Linked DNA regions of Homo sapiens. The protein of the gene in region 1 purifies or fractionates together with the protein of each later gene. This does not show direct contact. Each region holds a gene or a part of one and is shown on either strand. Other genes may lie near its edges.

Region 1 (5,017 bases):
AATCTGGTCCTGCCTTCTTTCTGTTTCCATTTCCCTGGTGTGATGCTCATTCTCTTTCTTCTTAAGCTTTCTTCTTTTACGTCATTTTGATTTTTGTCTATTTTAAGCATCATAATTGGATTTTTAATCCAATTGTGACTCAATTTACATTTATTATATGTGATACAGTCACAGATCTTCTAAAATTTTATTTTACATTAAAAAAATTCCAAGCTATTTTTCCACCCCCTTTCTTAACTTAAATGTAGTGTAAGAGTCCCTTGTTCTTTAGATAAAAGGGAAATTTTCTGCCCATTTTTTTCTACTAGTCTTCATTAACATTAAAAAATATAGTTGTGTTGGCCAGGCGCGGTGGCTCACGCCTGTAATCCCAGCACTTCAGGAGGCCAGGGCGGGTAGATCGTGAGGTCAGGAGATCGGCCATCCTGGCTAATATGGTGAAACCCCGTCTGTACTAAAAATACAAAAAATTAGCCAGGCGTGGTGGCGGGCACCTGTAGTCCCAGCTACTCGGGAGGCTGAGGCAGGAGAATGGCATGAACCCGGGAGGCAGAGCTTGCAGTGAGCCGAGATTGCACCACTGCACTCCAGCCTGAGCAACAGAACGATACTCTGTCTCAAAAAAAAAAAAAGTTGTGTCTATTTGTTCTTTCATAAATAATGAGAGATTTAGTATACTTTAATTCCTTCCTTCCTTCCTTTTTTTTTTTTTTTTTTCTGTCACCCAGGCTGGAGTGCAGTGGTACAATCTCATCTCACTGCAACCTCTGTCTCCTGGGTTCAAGTGATTCTTGTGCCTCAGCCTCCTGAGTAGCTGGGATTACAGGCACCTGCCACCACGCCCGGCTAATTTTGTATTTTTAGTAGAGACCAGGTTTCACCATGTTGGCCAGGCAGGTCTCAAACTCCTGATCTCAGGTGATCCACCCACCTCGGCCTCCCAAAGTGCTGGGATTACAGGTGTAAGCCACTGTGCCCAGCTTTAATTTCTTTTTTGTTGCCCATCTACCCCCACTAACTTTTTGCCTTAAAAACATTTTGGCTTTTAGATCCAGATTATTGTCTTTAAAAAAAAAAAAAAGTAATGCATGCTTTTGCTTTCCAGAATTATTTTTGACATTTATGTTTCCTAACCATACTAACAGCTGCTATCTAGACTGAGAGTTACATAGGTTACAATACTCAGTCCATTTCCTATGCTCAATCTTCATTTTTACTTATTCCTTGATTAGTTGGAATCTTTTTCAGGAAAGATAGTATATTCCGGTAGTTCTTGCTTGCCTAAGAACTTCTTTATGTTGCTGTTTCACAGTAACATCATCCTTTTGGGGCATACACTTCTTCATCTTAATCTTTTTACCTAAAAACTCCAAATATTATTCTTTTGTCTTCTGGCATTTTGTATGATGGAAGATAAGTTGTGGCCAACTTTATCAAAATAACTATGAAAGTCCACAAAAGTTTTGTTTCTTTCCCTTGTAATGACTACTTTATTTAAAAAAACCTTAAAATATATAAAACATAACACAGATATAGGAAAGGACATGAAACAAATGTGCAGTTTAGTGAAATATTATAAAGTGAATGCCCGTGTGACCACCATGCAGGTCAAGAAGCAGGACACAGCCAGCTCCCAGAGCCCAGTGCACCCTTGAACCACACCCTGCTTCCCCCTGGAGGTAACAACTCACCTTCCTTTTATGGTAACCATTTTCTTGCTTGCTTTTATAATTTTATAATCTAAATTTGCATCCTCAAACAAAGTACATCAGACTTGTTTCTCTGAAACTTTAAAAAATTAGAACTGTACCATTTGTATCTTATTCATTGTTATAACATCTCCATGGTGACTACTTTGATGCTTCAAAAAATATATATCAAATTTATTCCAAGAATATTTGGAGCCCTACTTTGCTTGGTGCTCTAAATTGGGGAATCCAGCACAGCCAAGAAGGAAGTGGTTTGTGTAAGACAGTGGTCAGTTTTAGACAAGACGAGTTTGAGGTGGGGATGGCCAGCAGAGAGGCAGACGTATGCATGTGTCATGGCTGGGACCCGAGATCTGAGTTGCAGGTTCAGGGTTATAAACACGCACGTGTAGGTTTCAAGATGGCACCATGGACCTAAATATTTGCCTTTCTTTTCTTCAAAGTGTCCAAAGACAAATATAGTAAGGAAAACATCGATTTGAGTTTTAGAGAAGAGAACAAACACTGGGCCTAGATTCTTTAAGGACTCTGTAAAAGTTAGAGTACAGATGGTGCCAGCCAATATCACCCAGCCCATGAGTATCAACAAGGGGCTTTCCTGGGAAGAAGCAGTGGTGTCCTCTCAGCTGAGTGCTAGTATCCCCAGGCTCAATGAAACAGGGCTAGATGGGCTGTGGTATGGTCAGTGGGGTGGGGATGAGGGATATAAATCTAAGGGCCGTGGGAAATCTATCAGCACTGCCACCTTGAGTGGCAGATCCCCATCTTAGTCTGCCTGTGTTGCTATGAAGGAATATCCAAGGCTGGGTAATTTATAGAGAAAAGGTTTACTTTTCTCATGATTCTACTGGCTGGAAGACTGGGCAGCTTGTGGAAGCCTCAGGCCACTTCCACTCCTGACAGAAAGCAAAGGGGAGCTGGCGTGTGCAGAGATCACATGGCAAGAGAGGAAGCAAGAGAGAGGGGAGGAGATGCCAGGCTCTTCTTAACAACCAGCTGTCATGGGAATGAAAAGAGTGAGAACTCACTCACTACTGCAAGAATGGCTCCAAGCCATTCATGAGGGATCCACCACCATGACCCAAACACCTCCCACCAGGTACCCCCTCCTTCAACATGGGCTTTGGAGGGATCAAATATCCAAACCACAGCACCCTCAGTTCCTCAGACATGTGCTGAGGGAGCTCCCAGTAAAGTGGGGATTTAATATATCCAGCTTCAAACAAGGTTGATTCTGATCACTTCACCAGATGCAGCTAAAAATAAAGATACAAAAGTATGTAAATAAACGCTATTCCACCCAGCAGTAAATACCTGTAATGTATTTGATCTAACATAGGGCCTCATCCTGCAAGCTTCCAGGGCAGGATCTGGAGGCCAGGGAGCTTAGGATCTAGGTACCTGAATACAAATTTCAGTGCTCCATTTAATGCCTGGAATGGTTTTCTCTGTGCCTTTTTTCCAGCTGTGAAGTGGCTGAAAAAAACTTTCTAAGCCAAGTAGTAAATCCCTGTGGCTTCTATCAGTAGCAGCTCTAAGGACCATTTGACATCCTTCACCCCATCCCCATGGCTCCCTGAATTGATGACAATTCTAGTAGTTTCCATGAGTCCAGGCTAGACTTTGGTTTCCATGTCGATGTTGCCTTCCATTCTGCCTGGGCTACTTTGCTTGGGTTCCTGTTTCATATGGCCACACTGCCCCTGGCTGAAACTCTGGATTACTTTAGAGTCCCCCCACCTTCTTCCCTGCTTCCAGCCCAGTCTTCCTCCATCCATAGTTTATTATTATTGTTTTTCTGAGACAAGGTCTCGCTCTGTTGCCCAGGCTGGAGTGCAGCAGTGCAATCATGGCTCACTGCAGCCTTAACCTCCTGGGCTCAAGCAATCCTCCCATCTCAACCTCCCAAGTAGCTGGGAGTACAGTGTATGCCAACATGCCTGGCTTATTTTTTTTAAAATTCTGGTAGAGACGAGGTCTCACTATGTTGCATAGTTGATCTTTTTAAAACAAAAATCTAATCTCATCATTTCTCTACCCTCCGGATAAAGCCCAAGCTCCTTACCTGCCTCAACTGCTTTTCCTCTTTTTCCTTTACGCTCTACCCTCTAGGTAGGCTGAACTACTCCATTTTTCTGAACATGCTTTCCCACCCTCCCAACCCTTCCAAAACAACTCTTTCCACCTCCTTATATGCCCTCTCCCCACCTTTTATCCAGCCAGTTAGTTCTTTTAGAAAGCCAATAAAATAGGCAAACTTCCAGAAAGCCTAATTAAGATACAAAGGCAAAAAAATTCACAAAGCTAGAAATGACATATGGAGCAGCATGGAGAAAAGATGTAAAATCTCAAGAACATTGTGCATTATTGTATCCCATCATCTGTGAAAATCTTGATGAAATGGACTATTTCCACTGAAAATATGCATTACCAATATTTACTCAAGAAACAGAATGTCATGTTCCCAGATGGGAAGAACCGATGTTATAAAGATGTCGATCCCTCACAGTTCCTGCCGCGTGAATGGCAGCCTCCCTGGTAACCAGAAGTGATGGAGATTTGTTCCTATTTTTACGTTCCTTCGGTAATTTTCTGTGGAATTTTGAAAGGGTCGTTAAATGTTTGTGCTTGATTGTGAATCATTTTATTGAAGGGAAAATCAATACAAGGGCATTTGAATGTTATTTTTAAATTGTTTTTCTCAAAGAACAAATGAAGTTATTAAACTTTGAAATGCATGGAGGCTTTATGAAACAATTTCATTTAACAATGGATGTGATTTTCTGCTTGTGTTATTTTATTGAGTATGAATTTTATCATGTTTGCTTTCTTTACTCGGCATGGAGTCTCCATAAGAATATCTAGGGGTTTACTTTCAAAAATCTACCGTGAAAAGACAGGACAGGAAAAGTGAGGGCGGGTTTGATTCTTTCCTGCTTTCCTCATGTCAGATGGCAGAGCATCCATACTGATTATCTCAGCATCCCTTTTTTTAGAATTTATTCTCCTTCCCTCTTAACACCATATTTCTCTTAAATCTTTCCAACACCCTCATTTGTGTCTTAAATTAGCTACGTCTGTTACCATAGTTATGCAGTATCCAGCTTAACCATTCCACACTCATTCCCACCATACTGTGTGTGAGACTTCCTCTCTCTTATTTCATAAAATATATCATTATTTTTCTTTATTCGTCTCCTGTCCCCAAACTTTTAGTTTTTAAGGCAACACTTGTTCATACTTAATGAATCAAATAGGACTGAAGGGCTTCTAATAAAAGGCAACAATCCCTGTACAAATCCCCCCCC
Region 2 (5,017 bases), on another chromosome or scaffold:
CTTAAATATTATCTATACCTTTGTAAACAGTCCTTTACTTAAACTCCCCTCAAGTTACCCAGTTTGTGGCATATCTATCATAATAAGTCTCCAAAATACCTTGCTATAACAAGTGGCAATTAAGGAAAAGATTGAAGTATTCATCCTGTATTTCATGAATTGGATTTCATGGTAAACATACAGCCCTAGTTGATATTAATATGTAAAAGTTCTACTCTTAACAGAGGAATTACAGTTAATAAATGTGAAAGGAATAACAGAATTAGAAAATCATTATTTTGCTATTCCCTAATGAAATAACAGGGATTCAGTTAAAGATCATGAATGAATGGAACCATTAGATGAAAGGTTAATGAACGATTCTTACAGGAAGCTATCACAGACTGATGCCACCTGAACAGAATGATCAACCTTAGCATCACTACAGGCCAGGCAGACATTATGCACCTCCGTGTGAGGCAAAAGAAAATACAATCTATTGAGTACCCTTGACTAGAAATCTGAAATAAGTAAATCAAGCTTTTAGATCTAACTACCATTTTATAGGAAATATGGAAAATACAGGAAGAAGTTAAATTACATCATTAGGAAAGTAAAAAGAAAAATCCAGAATGTAAAACAAGGTCCTGTATAGTACCACTGACCTAGTTCCTTCAACATGCAGGGGAAGGGGAGTTGGAGAAGTTGGGGGAATGAGATTTCTCTATATTAAGAGACTTAAAAGACTCTTAAAGGACCTAACCAAAGAAAAGCAACATTTGGACTTTGGATCCAGATTCTAATAAAGCAACTGTAAAATAGACACTGTTTTAGACAATCAGAAATATGAATATAAACTGGGAATTAATGATACCAAAGCACTTTTAATTTTGCTAGGCATGATAATGGCCATTATGATTATGTAAGAAAATGTCCTTTTTTTTTTTCAAAGATGCTTATTGAAGTATGTAAGGATGAAATGACAATATATGGAATTTACTTTAAAATATTTTGGTAAGAAAAAGGGTGATTAATGAAATCAAATGTGATGACATTTTGAAAACTGCAAAATCTGAGTAACAGGAGTTCACTATCCTATTTTCCCTACTTCTGCGTATATTTGAAATTTTTATCATAAAATTACCAAACAGAATGAAAATTCACATTCTTTCCACTGTAACTACAGTTTTCAAACTTGAGTGTGTCTAAGAATCCACATCTCATGCAAATCCTAAGAATCATCCCAAAAAATTGTGATTTTGTTTGTCTACGCAAGATCCCAGATTCCATTTTTAACAAGTGCCTCAAGTGAATCTGATACAATCTACAGCCTCATATCTGAAAACTATACACTTAATTGCTTTACTACAAGTAAACCAAACCTTAAAGGAAAGTCATGATCATATCTCTTACCTGCCCTTCACCATACCCCACTCCTATCTTAGTGTGATAGACATTTAATTAATCCTTTTCCTGACACTATAAATTCCATGAAAGTGGGACATGTTTGTTTTTACTCACCATGGTGTTCCATTGCATAGCAGAATTCCTAGCACACAGTACACACCAAATAAACATTTGTCAAATGAATGAATGAATAACAGAAAAGAGAAAAAGGAAAGTTAATTGCAGTCCACTGTTTCAAAATTAGTTTGAGGGCTGGGTGCTGTGGCTCACGCCTGTAATCCTTACACTTTGGGAAGCTGAGGCCAATGGCTCACTTGAGACCAGCCTGGGCAACATGGCAAAACCCCATCTCTACCAAAAAAAATACAAAAATTAGCCAGGCATGGTGGCGCTTGCCTGTAGTCCCAGTTACTCAAGAGGCTGAGGCAGAAGAATGGCTTCAGCTCGGGAAGTGGAGGCTTCAGTGAGCTGAGATCATGCCACCACACTTCAGCCTGGGTGACAGGGCCAGACCCTGTCTCAAAAAAAAAAAAAGTAGTTCAAGACAACAATCTGAGAAAATTTTCAATTTCTTGCCAAAAATCTGGTATCAGAAGTATGGATCAATTAAGAGGGGCACAGGTTGGCCTACCCTTAATATAACACAAGTATAAGATAAACTCTCACCTCCCTGAGATATCAGACTTTGGACGTTAATTTGAACATCTACCTTCCTATTAATTGTTTAGGAACTGTAATAAAAATACACTCTATATTTCATAATCCCAAACAGAGAGGGCAAGTATACTAGAGAAGAAAATCATATCTTTACATTTTAATAGATATACAAATAAAAAATTACACTTCCTATGTTCAGAAAGTACAAACCCCTACAATTATGAACGTAAGTCACAAATTCAAAAAATAATGGCAAATATAACTATTGAAATTAATTTAGGAACTAGTTCCAAAAAAAGCACTTACTAAAGATGGTTGACAGTCTTACATTTCTACCCCAACATCATTTAACTGTTTAAGTTTTATTTCTTAAATAATAAATCAAAGACAATTTTTTGAAGTTTTAATTGAAGTGTAATAAACAAAGTCTCATAGATTTTGTTTAATAAATTTTATTTTATTATTTTTTTTTTTTGAGACAGAGTCTCACTTTGACAACCAGGCTAGAGTGCCGTGGCACCAACATGGCTCACTGCAGCCTCAATCTCCTGGGCTCAAGCGATCTTCCTACCTCAACCTCCCAAGTAGCTGAGACTACACCCAGGTAATATTTTTATTTTTTTTGTAGAGCCGAGGTCCCTCTCTGTTGCCCAGGCCGGTCTCAAACTCCTGGGCTCAAGGGATACTTGCACCTTGGCCTCCAAAAGTGCTGGGATTACAGACCACCATGCCAGGCCTATCATAGAATTTTCAGAGACACAAGAGACATCAGCAACTATCTGGTCCAACTCTTTGTTCTACAAATAGGGAAACTGAAGCCTAGATGAGAAAAATGATGTACTTCATTACACAGAGATTTAATAGCAAAACAAGACTATGCTCTGAATTTTCAGTCCAGTGTTCTTTTCACACCACACTAATGGCATATTTTTAAGAATACTTTCCATTGTGAATTGCAGTACTACCTGTTCATCTTCTTGAACACATGTGTGTCGTATCCAACAGCTATACTGTGGACTTAAACTAAATGGATATACCCCCTTTTTAGTGGGGATGAGGAATGGAGAAGTAGAGCTATTGGATTATCTTCAGCAATAGAACTCTATATATAATATTTCCTGATAAGTGGGTTTTTCTATCAATTATCGTAATAGAATCTGTAGTTTTCACCATATATCCATAACACCAAAACTTATAATCGTGAAGCAAAACTGGTGTAAAGTTATGCAAAGTCTAATCTAAAACTGAGAATTTACTCTTTATTCAACATAAAATTTTATATGTAGTTCCTTCTTCTGGATTAAAAACATTTCTGGGCAGGGTGCGGCGCTCATGCCTGTAATCCCAGCACTGTGGGAGGCTGAGGCGGGCGGATCACGAGGCCAGGAGATCGAGACCATCCTGGCTAACACGGTGAAACCCTGTCTCTACTAAAAATACAAAAAATTAGCCGGGTGCGGTGGCGGGCGCCTGTAGTCCCAGCTACTCAGGAGGCTGAGGCAGGAGAATGGCGTGAACCCAGGAGGTGGAGCTTGCAGTAAGCCAAGATAGCGCCACGGCACTTCGGACTGGGCGGAAAAAAAACATTTCTGACTCAAAAGATTAATGAATTAACCAATTCATATCTCAGCCGTTACTCTGAGCCACGTCTCTACACACCCACAGGGTGCCTGTAGTGCAAGAGGGCCTATTTACAGAACACACACTGAAAGTATAAAAGATACACACAGAAAGAGAACAAGATAACAACTCAATCTCCATAAATTAGTTCCCAATTGCCTTTTATATCCAACTAAACCCTTGGCACAAAGTATATACCATATTATAAATCACAACTAAACAAATAAACAGTCTCTAAAAGATCTTCCCCATTTATTGAATCTATTAATAAATGTCTCAATTTTCAGTTACAATTGGCTTAGACGTCAATAACGCACAGCTAGATTATGAATTTATGAGCGGCTTGAGGTGCCAGATAAATTACTCTGTACTTAGAGACGACAATAAATATCAACTTCTAGACTAAGCACACTGACTAGTATATAACAGAAATATTATAAATATGACAATATTACAAATGCTTACTAAATACCAAATGCTATGATAGTTGCTTTGACTATATTATTCAATTCTTACAACAATCTAGTACTTTTATCCCCTCTTATTTTTCTGAAGATGAAACAGCATTGAGAGGTTAAAATAACTCCCTAAAATATTTCAGCAAATACATGTCAGAGCCTAGATTTCAATCCAAGTTTAGGCCCTATACAAAGATTTGCTGAATGAATAAAAATGAATTAGGAGAGTAACTTGTTTTTTTAAAAGAAGTTCCTGCAACATACTAACATCCAAAAAAGTCTGGTCCAAACTAACCAGATATGCAATTGATACTAATAACACCTATTAACTCACAAACTAGGAACACTGGCAGAGATACAACTTTAAGGCTCAAAGATTTAATGACCTCAGGTCTTTTCATTCCAAGAGTAATATACCCCCAAAACAGATCAATTCAACTGGCAAGGCATACAGGGGATTAGACAGCAATAATCCAGATTCGAAAATGCTACCCAAAATCTGCTGTAATAACCCAATGTGTGGACTAACACTGTCAAAAAAGTTCACAACAAAAATTTCAGTTTAGCGACAGGGACAATAGTGGAATTAATGACAAAACAGATAAGTTTATGGGAGGAAGCTTGTTTTGGAATATGAGGGATTTGAGACTAACATGACATCCAAGTAGAAATGCTTACAAGGCAGTCAGATATTTAAGGTTTGAAACAAAAGACTAAAAATAAAGATTTGGGTATCATGTACATAGAGATAATAATAATTGAAGCTGTAAGAATGGATGAATTCTTCAAGAGAGTGAAGACAAAGATAAGTATGATAGGCCAAAGATTGAGGAAAAGAAAAAAAGAAGAATGAAAAGATGGGAAAGCACTAGGTCAAGAGAGCCCAGGAAGATAAT
Region 3 (5,017 bases), on another chromosome or scaffold:
AGCCAGGCGTGGTGGTGCATGCCTGTAGTCCCAGCTACTCGGGAGGCTGAGGCAGGAGAATCACTTGAACACGGGAGGCGGAGGTTCCAGTGAGCCGAGATCGCACCACTGCACTCCAGCCTGGGCAACAAAGAGCGAAACTCCATCTCAAAAAAAAAAAAAACAAAAACAAAAACTAGTCAGGTGTGGTGGTGCATGGTCGTAGTCCCAGTTACTTGGGAGGCTGAGGTGGGAGGATTTTGAGCCCAGGAGGTCGAGGTATCAGTGAGCTATAATTGCACCACTGTACTCCAGCCAGGGTGACAGAGAAAGACCCTGTCTGAAAAAGAAAAAAACAAAAACAAAAACAAAAGAAAAAGAATGAGGGGACCGGGCACGGTGGCTCATGCCTGTAATCCCAGCACTTTGGGATGCCAAGGCAGGTGAATCATCTGAGGTTAGGAGTTTGAGACCAGCCTGACCAACATGATGAGACCCCTCTTCTCTAATAAAAATATAACAATTAGCCAGGTGTGGTGGTGGGTGCCTGTAATTCCAGCTACTCAGGAGGCTGAGGCAGGAGAATCACTTGAACCCGGGAGGCGGAGGTTATAGTGAGCCAAGATTGCGCCACTGCACTCCGGCCTGGGCGACAAGAGCGAAACTCTGTCTAAAAGAAAAAGAATGAGGGGACTGGAGCTAGCACTGCTGAGTCATGTGGGAGGATAGGGCTAGGGACTCCAGGGTCTCACCCATGGGCTCCCAGCCTGCCAGTGCCTCCTCCTGGGTGGATGCCTGGATTGCATGGTAGTGGAGCAGCTGCTGGGCCAGCTGGACGTCCCCGTCTCGAACCTCTCGAACAGCCCGCCCAGTCACCAGGGATTCCAGGGTCCACAGCAGCCGCTGGTGCTTCTGGATCACCTCGGCCAGCCTGTCGAGAAAGCAAGAGGGTGCTCATTTTCCAACGGCCCTCAGCCTTGCAGAGTCCTGGGCTGCTCCTATATACCTGGACTACAATCCCCATGAGCCCCTGAGGCATCCCCACCATTTACCTGGGGCAGAGGGCAGTGAAGATTTATGAGAATTATAGTCATGGAAACACAAACCCTGAGGATGCTGTGTAAAGGTCTTGGCCGCCGGAAATCCCTGAAGCTTTTGGGAAATTGAGTCTTAGCTTCTAACCTCAATTGCGTTTTGGGAAATGGAATTTTTGTCTCTAGCTTCCCCGCAAGCGGCTAGGAAATGGATTTAGGGGCTTCACCAGCCCCAGTGAACTGAGCCCCAATGCACTCCAAGAATGTCCTGGGAAATAGAGGCTTTGTGGCTTCTAGTCCCAGTGAATAGTGGACAACGGATGCATGTTTCAGCCACGACTGCCTCCAGCACATACTGGGAATCTGAGCCTTAGCTGCAAATTAATTCAGTGGGATCTTGGGAAATAGCCTTTGTTCCCATGGTCTCGAGTGGATGCTGGGGTTCCCCGCCTCCCGGGGTCCACACCTCAGCTGCATCACCTGGTCAGGTGCTGGGCCCGGACGACGCCGGGGTGCGCACTCCAGCCCTTAAATGCCATCCTGGCTGCCTCCACGGCTGCAGCCACATCCTCGGCCTGTGCCTGCAGGCAACTGGCCAAGTTCTCTCCTGGGGAGAAAAGTGGGGGGACTCAGATGGGAGGAGTAGCCCATGTCATATCTGGAGGGGGCTGAGATTTTCGGAGCCTGGATCAGCCCAAGAGTGTAAAGCTGGTCCCCATTCTCTGCTGGGTCACGGCTATGATCACCTCCAGGGCAAGGAAGCTATTTTAACAGACAGCAGTCTCACAAAGCCTCCACAGAGACCCGGAACCATAATTAGGGTGACTGGTTTCAGAAGGAACCAGACATCGCAGCCCATCTCCCACCACCAGCTGTTTCCTGCCCTCAGGGCCCTAGGCAAGGGGAATGGGTGTTGGTGGGTAGGGCTAGAGGGCACAGATACCTCCCTTCCACTAATGACTGGGGGACATCTCGTACCTGTGATGGGATCCTGGCAAGGCACTGAATTTCTGTGTTCAGGCTTTAACCACTTCCCATTCACATAGTGGCCCAAGCACCGGTCCTGGGTGTCCAGCCAGGCCTGGGGGAGGTAGAGACAGTTTGGAAAGGGGTTCGGGAGGAGCTGGGGCAGTTCAACCCCTACCCAGAATCCTCTAGGAGGGGACGTCTGTCTCCCTCTGCCCCATCAGCTAATTCTTTTCCTCCTATTGCTTTAAAAAAAAAGTTTGTGGTAAAATAGAGCATTTCAAAGTGTATAGTTCAGCAGTTTAGTGGCATTCTGTGCATTTACAGTGTTGTGTAACCATCACCACTCTAGTTCTAGAACATTTTTTCATTTTTTTTTTTTGAGACTGAGTCTTGCTCTGTCACCCAGGCTGGAGTGCAGTGGCATGATCTCAGCTCACTGCAAGCTCCGCCTCCTGGGTTCACGCTATTCTCCCGCCTCAATCTCCTGAGTAGCTGGGACTACAGGCGCCCGCCACCACATGCGGCTAGTTTTGTTTTTGTATTTTTAGTAGAGACGGGGTTTCACCATGTTGGTCAGGCTGGTCTTGAACTCCTGACCTCAAGTGATCTGCACGCCTTGGCCTCCCAAAGTGCTGGGATTATGGATGTGTCAACATCTTTAATTCATTCAATTAGGGTCTCAACTGAGTCCTTGGGCTGGTGCCACAACAGTGGCACCTATTTGGAGTCCACTTTGGGAGGCCGAGGTGGTCTGAGCCTAGGCATTCAAGACCAGCCTGGGCAACATGGTGAAAGCTCATCTCTACAAAAAATACAAAAAGTTAGCCGGGTGTGGTGGTGAGTGCCTGTAGTCCCAGCTACCTGGGAGTCTGAGGTGGGAGGATCACTTGAGCCCAGGAGGTAGAGGCTGTAGTAAGCCAAGATCACGCCACTGCACTCCAGCCTGAGTAACAGAGCAAGGCTCTGTCTCAAAGAAAAAAAATTTTTTTACCACATCTCACTCACCACATCTCCTCCATATTTCTTTCTTTCTTTTTTTTTTTTTTGTTTGAGACAGAGTCTTGCTCTGTCACCCAGGCTGGAGTGCAGTGGCGCGATCTCTGCTCACTGCAAGGTCCGCCTCCTGGATTCACGCCATTCTCCTGCCTCAGGCTCCCGAGTAGCTGGGACTACATGCGCCTGCCACCACGCCTGGCTAATTTTTTTGTATTTTTAGTAGAGATGGGGTTTCACTGTGTTAGCCAGGATGGTCTTGATCTCCTGACCTCGTGATCCGCCCGCCTCGGCCTCCCAAAGTGCTGAGATTACAGGCGTGAGCCACTGCGCCCGGACTTCTCCTCCATATTTCTTTCTCATCCTGGTCACGTCTTCCCTGATGCTAAATCCAAAGCACACTGCTCACTTGCTCCTTCTACAGACTCCCCTAGCATCTCTGATGTCACATATTCCTGATTTTTCTCTTACTGGCCCTTCTTTCTTTTTTTTTTTTGAGATGGAGTCTTGCTCTTGTCTCCCAGGCTGGAGTGCAATGGTGCGATCTCAGCTCACTGCAACCTCCGCCTCCTGGGTTCACGTGATTCTCCTACCTCAGCCTCCCAAGTAGCTGGGATTACAGGCGGCCGCCACCATGCCCAGCTAATTTATATATTTCTAGTAGAGATGGGTTTTTACCATGTTGGCCAGGCTGGTCTCGAACTCCTGGCCTCAGGTGATCCACTCGCCTCGGCCTCCCAAAGTGCTGGGATTACAAGCATGAGCCACTGTGCCTGGCTTCTCCTTTCTCTTTAAAGCAAAAAAGTTACTTAGAAGTTCCAAACTCAAACGCCCACAGGGAGAGAGACATCTGTGAGAAAGTCAGGGATATTTGAACATGAACTGGGCATCAGATGACATTAAAGAATGATTGTTGGCCGGGCATGGTAGCTCACATCTGTAATCCCTGCACTTTCCCACGCTGAGACGGGAGGATTGCTTGAGCTGAGGAGTTTGAGACTAGTCTGGACCTACACAGCAAGACCCCATCTCTACAAAAATAAAAGTAAAAAATTTGCCAGTCATGATGATGCACACTTGTAGTCTCAGCTAGTCAGGAGGCTGGGGTGGGAGGATTGCTTGGGTCCAGGAGTTTCAGGCTGCAGTGAGCTATGAACGCTACTGAATGCTAGCCTGGGCGACAGAGTAAGATCCTGTCTCAAACAAACAAACAAAAAACAAAAAGAATGACTTAATGTTAAGTGTGGTAACAGACCATGGTAGTTTTGTAACAAAATGAGCCCTTATCTGTTAGAAGAAAGGATTCAAATATTTATAGGAAAATACTGTGACATCCAGGATTTGTTTAAATTACTCCAAAGAAAATACAGAAGGAAACAGCGCTGGGATAAATGTTGATGATGGTTGAGGCACAGTGATGGGTAAACAGGAGTTCAAAATAAATGCTAATTATTCTGTGCAAGTTGGAAAGCTTCCCCCCAAAAGAAAAACAAAATTCCAAAAGAATGTCCAGAGGGTTCCAGGAGGCCTGAGAAGAGGGCCTGGATGAGAAGAGGAGCTTAACGATTCATGGAAAAGACAGGAGCTATTGGTCCCAGATGACTTTTGTCAGGGAAGTTGAGCCAAATGTTGACACATTTTGGAATTTTATTTTCAAGAGGACCTCCCGGATGTTTACATGGAATCAATTGTCCAGCATTTCACATAAAAAAAAAATAAAGTTCACGCCAAAGAAAACATGTTTGTTGGTTGAGTCTGGCCCAGAGACTGTACGGTTGAGAACTTTGCTGGTGTAGGCAAGACCACGGGTCTGAAATGCAAGGACTCAAGTCCAAGTCTCAACTTCACTTTTTATGTTTTATTTTTATATTAATAGAGATAGGGCCTCACCATGTTGCCCAGGCTGGTCTCAAACTCCTAGGTGCGAGTGATCCTCCTGCCTCGGTCTCCCAAACTGCTGGGATTACAGGTGTGAGCCACTTGCCTGGCCTCAACTTCTTTTTTTTTCAGGGGGGACAGGGTCTTATTCTGTCACCCAGGCT
Region 4 (5,017 bases), on another chromosome or scaffold:
ATTTGAAAGTTAATATGTACCTACCTTTAACAGAGCAATTCCAGACCTAGGTATCTACTCCCACCCCACCCCAAAATAAGTGCATATATACACAAAATGACTCATTTAGGAATACGTATAGCAGACTTATTTATAGTAGCCCAAATCTGGAAACAACTCAAATGTTCATCAATAGGAGGATAAACTATTTCATTCCATAGAGTGCATGACTAGCTATAAGAGTGAACTACTTGTACATGCAGCAACATGGTTGAATCTCAGAAACATTATTTTGACTGAAAGAAGCCACACACAAAATAGTACAATCTGTATTACTCCATTTATATGGAATTTAAAAAATATACAAAATTCGTCTATGATGATTGAAATTAGAATGGTAGAGAGGTTGGGAATTGGCTAGCAAGTGTTAAGAGGGAACTTTCTGGAGGGATATAAGTGTTCAGTATCTTAATTGAAGTAGTGACTATGTGGAAATATACACTTATCAAATTTCATCAAATAGTTCATATAAGATACATGTATTTCATTGTATGTAAATTTTTATCACAATTGAAAATACATTACCTGGCATAATGGTACTTTTCTCTGAAGTTAGATATAATGAGAATTAGAAAGTGCTGCGTTTTCATTTTAAGCTCATTTAATATGTGCATATAATGCCTTGATTCAAAATTCAAATGTAGAAAACAAATTTTGAATTCTTCTGATTAGTAGAAAAATTTTAAAAATGTCTCTTGGTTTTAGTTTTTTAAAGTAAAATTTGAATACTGAATTATGTGCCAGTTACTGTAATATGCATTTTACATGTGCTATTTTACTTAATCTCCAAACATACTCAGTGATTAGTTCTATTTTTCCTTGGAACAGAACAGAAGTAGGAACAGAAGCATCAAGAGGAAATAGAAACACCAAGTGTTCAATTAATATTCCCAAATTATTATGGAAAGAGTCCTAAGCCAGAAGTTACTGAGTTTTACATCTGAATTTTCTAATATTTTATTTTCTTGAATGTCATTTTACTATACCTGTTTAATAATTCTATTAAATCTATTTCAAGGGTATTTTAATGAGCTACTTTTCATGATATTTTCTTTTATTAAATAACTTTAATTTTTTCAAGGAGCAACTGTGGTGACAGCTGCTGTGGTAGAAGTACATTCACGTGCCTTACTAGTTAAGACAACACTAAACATAAGCTTCAAAACTGATGATCTCACCATGGTGCTGTATAGTCCAGGTCCTAAACAGGTAAGTCCAGGAAGAAAAGAAAATGTATTTTCACATGTGAAATTTGCATAGGTTGATGTTTTTAAAGTAACAAATGTTAATATTTAACATTTATTTTGTAGTATCTGTCCCTCTGAGAAAAATGATCTTTTTACTTTAATAATAATTATAACTATTTCCCTTTTAAATGAGTTATCTATCATATAGCTAATGTGAAAAATAAATTGTAAAATTAAAGTGATATGTATATATTTTTAGCCTTTCATTAGAGCCCTTCGGAGACAGAATTTTGATGTTTGTTATAAGCAGAGGCAATAATTTGTAGTAGTTCATATCATGAAATACACTTTAGACTTGTGTTTCTTTGTAATTTTGTGTTGGTTTCTCCTTTCATAGGCTTCCTTTACAGATGTTCGTGATCCTTCTCTGAAACTTGCTGAATTTAAATTGGAGAATATTATAAGTACTTTAAAAATGTATACAGATGGCTCAACATTTTCTTCCTTCTCATTAAAAAACTGTATTTTAGATGATAAAAGACCTCATGTCAAGAAAGCAACTCCTCGGTATGTATTGTAATGATGTTCTAAGGTTTTACTTGAGAAATCGTTGATATATTTTACAGAATTCATCTCCAGAATTGCACGTTCATTTTCTGAGTGCATCCTAGGTTCTTTAAAGCTTCAATTCAGTCAGCTCGTAGTACTCGGTTAACATTTAAAATGTCCTGGTTCTGTTATGTACTATTCTTACTGGATAATTGATAGATTGGTTGAGTAACTAGAAATAATCAGTGCAATTAAATTGGTTTTTACATTCTTTAAATTACATTCTCTAATATAAATCTAATATAAGTTATTGTTAATCCATGCTAATTGCAATGGGAAGTACATAAAAAATTGAAAAGAAAAAATATCCTGAGATTCAAACTCTTATAATTTATTGAACATACACTTCCTCATTTATGATACATTTGTGTTCCAGAAGTTTGTAAGTTTGTTATTTGGAACACTTTATGGATCTTCCCAAGAGACATGACTTCAGAATGCTTTTTTTTGTCAGTAAAAGAGATAAGAGGTCTTTGAGTTTTACTCATATGTTTGATTACTTCTAAGTTACTCATACATAGGAATTGTTGTTATTGTGTTTTCCAGAATGATAGGACTGACAGTTGGTTTTGACAAAAAAGACATGATGGATATAAAGTACAGGAAAGTCAGAGATGGTTGTGTGACTGATGCGGTCTTTCAAGAAATGTATATTTGTGCAAGCGTAGAATTTCTGCAGACTGTTGCAAATGTCTTTCTTGAGGCCTACACCACAGGCACTGCTGTAGAAACCAGTGTGCAAACATGGACTGCTAAGGAAGAAGGTTAGTTATTGGCTAAAATATTTAATATTTGTTTTATTGAAGTGCTACAACAGGACTTAACCTTGATTAGCCTTTTAGATCATCAAAGTAAATGCTTTAAGAAATTAAAATTTTATTTTTCAGAGTAGAAGGAAAACCTTAATGTGTTTTCTTGGAGGATGTATAGTTTGCATTTTTTAAAGGTGTCAGTATATATTGCATTTAAAAATTATGAAACCTATGTTAGAATAAGTAATTGTACTTCTCTTCAGGCAGTAATTTGAAGGAATTTGTCTAGTGGAAAAAAACAAGCAGAGCAAATAATGAACCAACCATACCTTTTCACAATTAAGATAATATTTCAATTTAAAGCACTCATTTATTTTTGTTGTATTTATTCCTAGCTTTTAACGTACGGTTTCTCTATTATCTTTTTATAATATGTGATTTACTGTGGTATAGTAGAAAGAGTATCAAGTTGAGAGTTAGAAACTAGATTAGTTTCTAGGCTTTCCAATTAAATAGTGGAGATTTCCCCTCATTTAAAAATGTTCTTATGCCTATAGCTTCTTCAAGTCTTTACTAAGGGTTGTAGTTGATTCCTTTGGGATCTAAGATTCTTTTGTTTTACTTTTTACTATTATTTCATTTTAATATTTTCTTATAAATAATAAATTATTCATAATATATAGCAAATATTTTAATCTATTTTTATTTGTTTTAGTACCTACACAGGAATCAGTGAAGTGGGAAATTAATGTTATTATTAAAAATCCTGAAATTGTGTTTGTAGCTGACATGACAAAAAATGATGCTCCTGCTTTAGTCATTACAACACAATGTGAAATTTGCTATAAAGGTAACCTTGAAAATAGTACAATGACTGCTGCCATTAAAGATCTCCAAGTGAGAGCCTGCCCGTTTCTTCCAGTCAAGAGAAAAGGCAAAATCACTACTGTGAGTTAACTATTTGATCATCTGCTTAATTGTAACTATTTTGGATGTAGTGTATACCATTTTAGGAAACAAAAACTACCTACATGCTTTCCAACCTTGCTCTGTAAAATGTCTTTCTCTCTGCTTAGAGAGCTTAATTTAGAATATTATTTACCAGCTTTGAAACTCTTTCATTCTTCCAGATGCTGCTCATTATTGTTAGTATTTGTGGGAATATTGTCACTAAGAAGTTGGGTTCATCTTGACAGTTTTCAGTTAAGATCTACTTTGACTTTCTAACCATGTCAATTCCAAATTGCTCTTTGGACTTTTAAGACTTTCTGCCAGTTGTTTGCTGTGTTGTTTCAATTTTATTGTTTCAACTTTTTTCTCCCGTTTGGATGTTTTTGCTCAAATAATGAGTTTTTCCTTGTCTCCATGTAACTTCATTTGAACCTTCAGCCATTTGCTTTGACATACTTCACATTGATATTTTACTCTCTAGTAACCTCTTGGCCTTCCTCCTCTTCATAACTCTACTTAAAATTCATTCCTTTACAGACATCTTTTCAAGTTAACTGGCTGACTTCCAGCGAATACTTACAAAAATATTTGAGCTTCTGAAGGAGTAATAGAAGCATAAGTTTTTGTTTGTTTCTTTGTATTTTTTTCCTGATGCTTGGTATGCATCTATAGAAGCATAAATGTTCTAAACATTGTCACCATAGAAATATAAGATGTAATTTTGATACAATGAATACATATATATTAGGATATAAGATAAACTGTTGCCCAAATTTGCAAGACAGTTGGCCCTCCACTAAGCAAAGAGAGAGAATAGAAAATGGAGGGTATACCAATTCTCTCTTAGTTTTTGACTTAGAAGTTTTAAATATATATTTCTTCTATTCACATCTTTTTTGGCTTGAATATAGCTGTATGACCACACTTTACTTCAGTAAAGGTTGGAGACTGTGGTATTTTTTTCTGAGCTACCTTGTGCTCAGATAAAACTTCTATTACTGTGGAAGAATAGAACAGATATTAGGTTCTAGATGTCCTTTATATGGGATAATTAAGGAGTGTATTATTAAGTCACTTTTTAAATAGTTGTTTTTATTAACTTGTTTATTTGACATACCTATTACTAGGAAAGTCTTTAAATAGAAATATTTTTATATTTAAACATTAATTTAGTGGTATTGATTTTTCTCTCATAGGTTTTGCAGCCCTGTGACTTGTTTTATCAAACTACTCAGAAAGGTACAGATCCACAAGTGATCGATATGTCAGTAAAATCCCTGACACTAAAGGTAAATTAAAATATAATCATTTGAATATTTAGTGCACTTAAAAAAAGTAGTAAAGCCTAGAAAGTTATTATAGCAAGTCTTTTAATTGTTATGCAAACAAAATAGGTGTGTTTTTGAAAATACGTTTTTATGAGATATTTACAAAGTAATATTATTTAATACACATTTTATGAATGTTATTCTATATTTT

Evidence for each region.
Region 2: the proteins of ADD2 (region 1) and ROCK1 purify together in Homo sapiens (affinity purification with mass spectrometry; 2 studies listed by BioGRID and IntAct, with this or other methods). This does not show direct contact.
Region 3: the proteins of ADD2 (region 1) and ALDH16A1 purify together in Homo sapiens (affinity purification with mass spectrometry; one large-scale study listed by BioGRID and IntAct). This does not show direct contact.
Region 4: the proteins of ADD2 (region 1) and VPS13A purify together in Homo sapiens (affinity purification with western blotting; one study listed by BioGRID). This does not show direct contact.

The regions. Positions count from the first base shown.
Region 1 is NC_000002.12:70,757,292-70,762,308, reverse strand, and holds part of ADD2 (beta-adducin), read left to right. Parts: intron 1-5,017. UniProt on the Homo sapiens protein: Membrane-cytoskeleton-associated protein that promotes the assembly of the spectrin-actin network. Binds to the erythrocyte membrane receptor SLC2A1/GLUT1 and may therefore provide a link between the spectrin cytoskeleton to the plasma membrane.
Region 2 is NC_000018.10:21,100,959-21,105,975, forward strand, and holds part of ROCK1 (rho-associated protein kinase 1), read right to left. Parts: intron 1-5,017. UniProt on the Homo sapiens protein: Protein kinase which is a key regulator of the actin cytoskeleton and cell polarity.
Region 3 is NC_000019.10:49,455,563-49,460,579, reverse strand, and holds part of ALDH16A1 (aldehyde dehydrogenase family 16 member A1), read right to left. Parts: intron 3,765-5,017; exon of another isoform or gene 3,657-3,764; coding exon of another isoform or gene 3,654-3,656; intron 2,095-3,653; coding exon 1,992-2,094; intron 1,621-1,991; coding exon 1,494-1,620; intron 911-1,493; coding exon 732-910; intron 1-731.
Region 4 is NC_000009.12:77,312,872-77,317,888, forward strand, and holds part of VPS13A (intermembrane lipid transfer protein VPS13A), read left to right. Parts: intron 1-1,120; coding exon 1,121-1,248; intron 1,249-1,623; coding exon 1,624-1,793; intron 1,794-2,381; coding exon 2,382-2,599; intron 2,600-3,302; coding exon 3,303-3,535; intron 3,536-4,734; coding exon 4,735-4,827; intron 4,828-5,017. UniProt on the Homo sapiens protein: Mediates the transfer of lipids between membranes at organelle contact sites. Binds phospholipids. Required for the formation or stabilization of ER-mitochondria contact sites which enable transfer of lipids between the ER and mitochondria.